2 linked regions of the Homo sapiens genome follow. The protein of the gene in region 2 purifies or fractionates together with the protein of the main gene of each other region. This does not show direct contact. Each region holds a gene or a part of one and is shown on either strand. Other genes may lie near its edges.

The links. The genes of interacting proteins can lie anywhere in the genome.
Region 1: the proteins of OR2T1 (region 2) and ARID3C purify together in Homo sapiens (affinity purification with mass spectrometry; one large-scale study listed by BioGRID and IntAct). This does not show direct contact.

The regions. Positions count from the first base shown.
Region 1 is NC_000009.12:34,626,117-34,630,275, forward strand, and holds the start of ARID3C (AT-rich interactive domain-containing protein 3C), read right to left. Parts: upstream 2,801-4,159; intron 1,971-2,800; coding exon of another isoform or gene 1,899-1,970; coding exon 1,581-1,898; intron 1-1,580. UniProt on the Homo sapiens protein: Transcription factor involved in monocyte-to-macrophage differentiation.
Region 2 is NC_000001.11:248,401,898-248,405,847, reverse strand, and holds the start of OR2T1 (olfactory receptor 2T1), read right to left. Parts: upstream 2,801-3,950; 5' UTR 2,603-2,800; intron 1-2,602. UniProt on the Homo sapiens protein: Odorant receptor.

The DNA of each region.
Region 1 (4,159 bases), on a different chromosome or scaffold from region 2:
AGTCTTCCCCCACCCTCATGGGAAATTTAGAGCCCCAGGAAGGAAGCTAGGCTGGGGTTGTATACCAGACTGAGGAGACAAACATATATCTGATGCTCTGATTCATTCATGCAAGGACTTCATGGTGTTCACATCCCTGTATGCCAGGGCTGGGGGTGACTGAAGGGCAGAGATGCTCCTAACCCACCCCTCAGGCAGGGTGATGCTCAGAAGCTCCTGGGTTGACACCCAGGGCCCTTCAGCTCATCTTCTGGTCTGATTTCCTTTCAGAGGCAGTTAACCTGCCTACAGACGCTGCTATAGAGGCACTGGCCCTGTACCACCTAGGACCTGTGGGGTCAGAGTTTAAAGGATCCACAGGCCATCTCAACTCTTCCTGGTAATCTGGAGTCCCACCTCCTGCATCAACTCCCGAATACTAGTCAAGAGAACCACCCCTTGAGTCACTGACCCAGAGTAACAGTCCTTGAGTAACACCTATAGATAATATTCCATCACTCCATCCCCATAAGAATCCTCAGAGTATAAAACAAACAAAATATCCATGAGTAATAAACCCCAGATCCACCTTTAGAGCCACATTCCCACAAAAATTGAGCCCTAAGTCTAAGATGTTATTACTTAGATCCAAGTAATAACCCCTAGAATTATACCTAGGAGAAACAGTCTCTAGACCACATATCCAGAACAGAGCCCTGAGTAACACTCAGTTTTATACTAATGCCAGAGTACTAGTCACAGATCAACACTTTTGGAATATACCCAGACCAACACCCTACAAGTACCAGAATAGCACACCTGGAGACACAGCCCTGTGTAACACCTTCATAGTGACAGCCTTGAGTAGTGTCCTTAGAATAACACCCAGAAGGGTTCTCCAGGGAGAAAGAACCTCAGATTAAGGCCCTGTGAATGAAGTCTTGTCATTCTGAGTTGCGGAGGAGCCCTTTAGTCATACTGCGGCTGTAGTGGCCATCCCAGGCTGGGAACTATCATCCGTGGAACTCAGGCCAGGGAGATTTGCATGGGGCCAGGGTTAGGGAGGAGGTGACAGGAAAGAAAGGAAAGGTGTATCAGCCTGCCAAGTGAGTGATAACCTCCATTCTGCTTCCAAAGACAGAGGAAGCAACTGGGTCACCCCCACTGGTCACTGGAATATGACCTTGTGACTTGATGTGTGAGAAGGTAGGCAGGGTGGTGCTGGCATTGGAATCCCCAGCCCCTAGACTGCCTTCCCTACACCTGGCTGGGCATGGTGGCTCATCCCTGTAATCTCAGCACTTTGGGAAGCTGAGGTGGGAGGATTACCTGAAGTCAAGAGTTCGAGACCGGCCTGGGCAATACAAGAAAACCTTGTCTTTACAAAAGAAATTTTAAAAAATTAGCCAGGCATCTGTCTTTCCCTCCCTGTCACTATCCTCCAATCTTCTCTCTGTCTTTCTATAGGTCTCCGTGTCTCTGTGTCTCTTTTCATCTTGCAGAGGGTGGTGGGGGTGGGTGGGCTGCTAATCACCTGGCTGTGCTTTTGCCAGAAGAGAGAGATAGGGAAGAGGGCCGGACATTGAGGGCATAGGTCCTACCTGCTTGAATTGTTCCTCGTAGGTCCACTCGTGGGGATGGAGTCCAGGGGGCTGGCTAGAAGGCGAGCTGGGGCCCTGGGCCCCTGGACGGCTCTCCTCAGCTGCCTCCTCCTCTGCCCCGGCTTCCTCCCGCTTCTCCTCATCTTCTTCAGCATCTTCCTCTTCCTCAGCCCCAACATTCCCCAAGGCCCCCTCAGGGGCCTGTAGGGTCCGGTGGTCAGGCAGGGGAGGCTGCGGTGGCAGCAGCGGGCATGCAGGGGCCAATGGCCCCACCCCCTGGGCCAGCCGAGCTGCCTGCTGCTTCTGCAGGGCCTCCATGACAGCTTCCAGGCGCAGTCCCCCAGCTGAGGGGGTCCCTGGTACCAGGCGGGACCCCGAGGAAAGGGCCGCCTGTGGGGGAGGGAATTATGGGTGCTGGGCCCTACTGCCCCCAGAGCCCCCCAACACAGGGGGAGGTGGTCATGGATTCAGGGAAGTGCAGGGGTCACAAGGAAAGAGGCAGAAAGATGGCTTTCCCAGAGGTGAACAGAAACAGGACCAGACCCGGGGAATCAAATGGCCATTGACTGAGGACTGGAAGAGTGAGCAGATCAGAGAGGGTGACGGGGACCAAGAGACATCGGGAAATGGTGAAGGAAGGGAGAGAGAAAGAAAAGGAGAAGGGGGATGTCCGACAGAGACAATGACAGGGAGATGTGAAAATAGAGATGGAACAGGGTGACAAGGAGAGACAGAAGTGGGGTGACACAGAGACTGAGAGGGACCAAGATGGAGAGAGGCAGAGGTATCAGGCAGAGACAGGGTAGACAGACAGAGATGGAGAGAGATAGAATATTGGGTAGAGAGACAGGGAGGGTAAGAGAGGTAGAGGAGCAACAGATAAAAGACCTAAGTGACAGGTAGCTCAGAGACGGACAGAGACGGAGAGACAGAGGCGGAGATAGACAAATAGACAGGGGTTGAGATATAGGGAAAGACCAAGACAGCAGGAAACGGACAGAAGAGAGAGATTAGAAAGAGACAGTTAAATAGAGAGGGACCGACAGAGACAGGGACGGGAAAAACAGCCGGAGAGAGGGGCAGAGGACAGGGACCAAGGAGTCGCGGGGATGGAGGGCGGTGGGGCAGAGCCTGGGACGGGCACGGGACCGGACGGGCAGGAGGCGGCAGAGTCGCGACGCCCGGCTCCCTCGCTCCGGGCGCCCCGCGGCCGCACTCACCTGCCTGGCGTGGCCCGCTGCCCCTGGCGTCTCCACGGCGCTGCCTTTGCTCCGCCCGCCTCCCAGGCGGCCCTGGCCTCGGCTGGGTCCCGGCGGTGCGCTCCCGCCGCCCTGTGCTCCTCTGGCGGCTGTGCGCTCACTCGCCGCGCTGCTTGCGGCGGCCGCGGGGGCGGGACCCGAGCGGGGCAGGGCGGGCGGGGCGCATGGGGAGAGGCCCCTGTGGGATCTGCCGCTCTCAGCTCCCCAACAGGTGTCTCCCACCTTCTTTCCAGCCAGCTTCGGGGGCAGGGGGCGCTGGAAAGCTGCGGGGGAATCGTGCGAAAATGAGGGCTCTACCGCCACCGGACTCCGGACCAGAGCCCCGCCCAGCCTCACAAGTCGTGCCCCCGACACCCACACTCGGCACTGGGCTTCCACATACAAATAGCCGCATCCACACACCAACACACCTTGTCACAAGTTCAGGCGCATAGCTTCCCAGTCTCACACGTTCCGTGACATGGTCACCACAGTGCCAATGGCCTGGGCACGCTGTGATCAAGAGGGGAATCCCTCTGCAAGATGCTGGGGTGTGCGTGGAGGGTCTGGTCAGAATAGAAGCTTCTCCCTTTGCCTTGAGCACCCCTGCCCTGCCTACGTGCTGTCCCCCACTGCGGGCATGCTGCGGTTTGCACACATGAGTGCACATGGTGGTGGACCCACACCTATGCACTCACACACTCTCAGAGGTCTTTAAGCTGACTGCACACTCACCGCATGCAGATACACAGCCACACACAGTTTTTGTCTCTTTTGACATTCTATTATGGAAATTTTCTTTTCTTTTCTTTTTCTTTCTTTTCTTTTTTTTCTTTTTTGGAGACAGAGTCTCTGTCACCCAGGCTGGAGTGCAGTGGCGCGATCTGGGCTCACTGCAGCCTCCGCCTCCCAGGTTCAAGTGATTCTACTGCCTCAGCCTCCCGAATAGCTGGAATTAGCTGGGATTACAGGCGTCCACCACCAGACCCGGCTAATTTTTGTCTTTTTAGTAGAGATGGGGTTTCACCATTTTGGCTAGGCTGGTCTCGAACTCCTGACCTCAAGTGATCCACCCACCCTGGCCACCCACAGTGCTGGGATTACAGGCATGAGCTACCGTACCCAGCCTGTATTATGAAAATTTTGAAACATAGACAAGTGAATAGTATAATGAACCTCTGGTACTCATCATAGGTTTGTTTCAACAGTGACCGGCACTTCGCCCATGTTCACACACATTCTCCACCTATGTGTGCCTGACTGCCACATCTGTATCTCCAGACCCCCTCAGCCCACTGCTTTGCGCCCTCCCCCTAACTATTCCCAAGACGCTGAAATGCT
Region 2 (3,950 bases):
TTGCATACCATGCTACACAGCAGTTACGCATACCATGGTCCGGTGTATGCGTGTGTGTATTACCTTAGATGCATTTAAATTTGTATTATTATTTAATGTGTCTTTGTATGGTTGGCATCACCACTACTTTCAAAACATCTTTGGTGCTGGCTGTGAGTAGCTCATGTCTTCCATTTAGCTACAAGTACGGGTTATCTACCATTTGGGTCACAAGTCACTGTCTACATCATGAGAGTATACTTGGTGTTAGTTTATCCATGTCCCAGACAAATTATAAGGGATGAAATAAAAAGGGCAACAGAAACTCAACGGAAACTACTCTTGCAAATTTAGACATAAAAATTATTCTCAATACAAGAGGCATTCAGTGTTGTAGAATTTTATTTATTTTCAATTTTAAGATGATGAGGAATTAGCATTAGGATTATGATTAGCATGACCATTAGAAATCAGTATTAGCAATTAATATTCAGAGGAAATACCACAGGGACGTAAACATTGAGCTATAATTCACTGATTATTTTTGGAAATTAGAATTTTTCATAGTTCTTCATAATTAAGAAAAACTGAGTGTGTTTTATACAATTTCAGGTTACAATAAAGAAACAAATATCCACAACAAACTTCATGGAAGTAAAGGATGATTTTTCACATTGTTTAAGGCTAAAAGTGTCCCAAGAAAGACATTTTACCAACATATTTGGGAGTAAAATTGATCAAACTAGTCTAGTGCTCCTCTAAATATTCTAAAAATATTAGCATTTGAGTCAATTGCCCAGAAAAAGAAGTTGCTATTGAGAATAATGATGATGACATCGTGGAGTTTATTTTGCAAAGTGTCATGCTAAGAAGTACTTTGTAACTATTGACTCCCTGATCTTCACAATAAAACTAAGAAGTGAGGAGCTATAAAAGCCCCTCTCACCAATGACAGCATTGAGGGTAACGTGTTGGTGGTCACGGGGTCTGTTAGTGCCAGGAGTGTTTGGACTAGATAGTCTCAATTCATTATATATTCATACACATGGCATTGTGTATATAGGAAGCTTTATATGGGAATAGCAGCTAGACATTTACTGTAATTAGCAAATAAAATGTACCAAGCATGTGAACCTGCTAAATTGTTAACAATGTAATAACTAATGTGACTAATGAAAATTAGTCATACTTGAGAGTAGATCACATAAATTATTATAATCAGGATTGCTGTTTTATGGATATAAACTATGTGTACAGATATACACACATATATAAAAATGTACACATAGATACATCATATGTATATTTTATATATATATATAATGTATATTTTGCTAATTCAGAATATTTGGTGTCAGGTTTTATACATTTTTATGATACTATGTACAATGTCATCATTACTTACAACCTCCCTCATTTTACTTTTTTTAGGTTTCATTAATGGAACCTATAAAAATATATTTCTAAAGGGAAACTCCTCTCCAGTTTATGTCGCAGCCTAAATATTAGCAGTATTTCAGCTACTTCCACACTTCCTACATTTTCGGTTTGACTTTTATCATGCGATAAGACACCAGAAACAGAGGGAAAATCATGTGCTGCTTCACAAAGTCAAACAGTGGTCTCTGCTGTCTGTTCACCCTTACTCCCATTTTATACACACACACACACACGTATATGTAATAGCACAGGGACATACATATTGAGGTATAACTCACCGATGATTTTTGGAAATTGGAATTTTTCCGTAGCTCTGGCAATTAAGAAAAACTGAGGGACTGTTTTATACAATTTCAGGTTACAGTAAAATCCACAACAAACTTCAAGAATATAAAGGATGATCTTTTATCCATTATATATATATATATAAGTATATACATTCATAATTTCCTCCCATAGATTTATATATGTATATATGTAACTCTTCTGTGGTTCTAGCTTTTTCTATGGCCAGCTAGCCCTGCAAACCTAGCAATGCAAAGGGAAATTCTAAAGTCTACTCCATTTTGCAGCCAAGTGGCCTTACTTTTCCTATCTGCATACAAAAGATCTAATTTATCAGAGAACAAGCCCTCCTCAAAGTAAATTATGATTTTAAGTAAAATGTTTTGTTAAATTTATTATCTGCTCTCTCACTAGAGTGAGCACAATAAGTAACTATACTTGTTGAATATCTCCTGGGCATAGATCATACAGCTTTGCTATGGTTTAGTACACATAAAAATAATCAGAAAATGTTTGGAATGATTCTGTGACTTTATATAGGCATTTGTTTCTGAAATGATGAAGGCAACATACAGTAAAACAAAATTTAGAATTAAATGAATTGAGTTCTTCCTCTGGTCACGACATTAATTAATTCTGTGACCTTGGATTATCTTCCTAAACACCCTGAGCCTCAGTATCTGCTTATATTAATTGATATAATAAACATTCAGGGTTACTTTAAGAATCAAATAAGAAATTTATAGTTACAGGTGCAAATATTTTATACAATACCAAGTAAAATGTAAGATATCTGCAAATTATTTCAAAACTATTGGTAAATGGGTGCAAATTCTCAATCTCTCATTTAAGCAATCTACATATTCAACTAAAATCTATGAATTTAAATTGCAAATACCTCCTGATCTTCAGAAAAGGTCTGTAAACCCAGGTGCTCCCAGTGAAGTTACATCAGCAGTTAAAGTCTATCTTTTCCCCCAAGTATCCTTTGACTTGAAAGGATTGTTACTTAGTAGAAATTCTCAGAAAAAACTGTGCATTTCAATTAAGCTTGCAGAACATCTAAATGCCTTTGAAGAGCAGAAGTATGCTTGGCCTGCAAATTTTGAGAAAATTATTTTTAAAAAGTTAGTGGATAAAATAGACATAATTTTATTGGATAAAATTGTCTTTTAGGCCTACCTAAACTATTTTTTATTGCATAATACCGTACACCAAGAGATAAATCAATGCATTTATGTTATCCTGACATTTGTAAATATTCTGTACTATTTTATAAGGCGTGCATGTTGGTTGAGTAGGGATGGCCGCAAATATTTTCCTCCCACATCACTACAGTTTGAAGGTAGGACACAATGCTTGCCCAGGACTGTGATGATCTCCAAGCCCATCCTTTAAATCAAGTGACAAGATAATTCCTAACTTGTAAGTTGCAGCCTTTGCTTGCTTCCCTATGACCACTGGTGAAGTTTCTGCCAAAGAAAAGAGCAAGCTCCATGCTCCTTCAATGCAGCAGCCTTGTTAGGAAGCTCTGCATTAGCTTAAATTAAAGCTGCTTCATGCAGGATTCTTCCTTGCCTTCTGAATCTGCTTGGAACCAGTTTTCTCTCTTTGCAACATTCAACATTTCATAATGTGAATATGACTACAAGGTTTTCTGTCCTCCTTCTCTATACCGGTCACACTTCTCCAGTTATTTTATGCATTCATGTATGAATTTTTTTCCAAAGTGCTCAACTTCCAGGTATTTACTGGGGATAGCTTTTGCAATGTCTATTTTAGAATATAATACCTCAATTTCAACAGATTACTGTAGGTGTGGTTTTTCCTGTACAGAATACACTGGCAATATTACTTTTCTGTTGTTATCGCAGACACATTGAGTCATTACATACACATTCAAACTTACAGTTACCTTTTCACATGAGAAGTTCTCAAGACAGGTCAATACAGTGCTGTGCAATTTTGAGACTAAATACAAAAATATATGTTCCTAGTTTTTCTCCGTGTTCCTAAATTCTGTTTAGTATTTCAAAAAGTTGGAATCATTAAGAATGAACTCATATTGAAATAATAATCATACAATTATTAGATAATAAAGCACTAATGTACTCTGACAATTTTAGAGTAACTTAGAACCACATTCTTCAACCCACACACACCTCCTACAAGACCCATAAAGAGACTACACACTAGAATAAACCCCTCTACTAGAGAGACCTGTTATTTCTGATGAGAGTTTATTT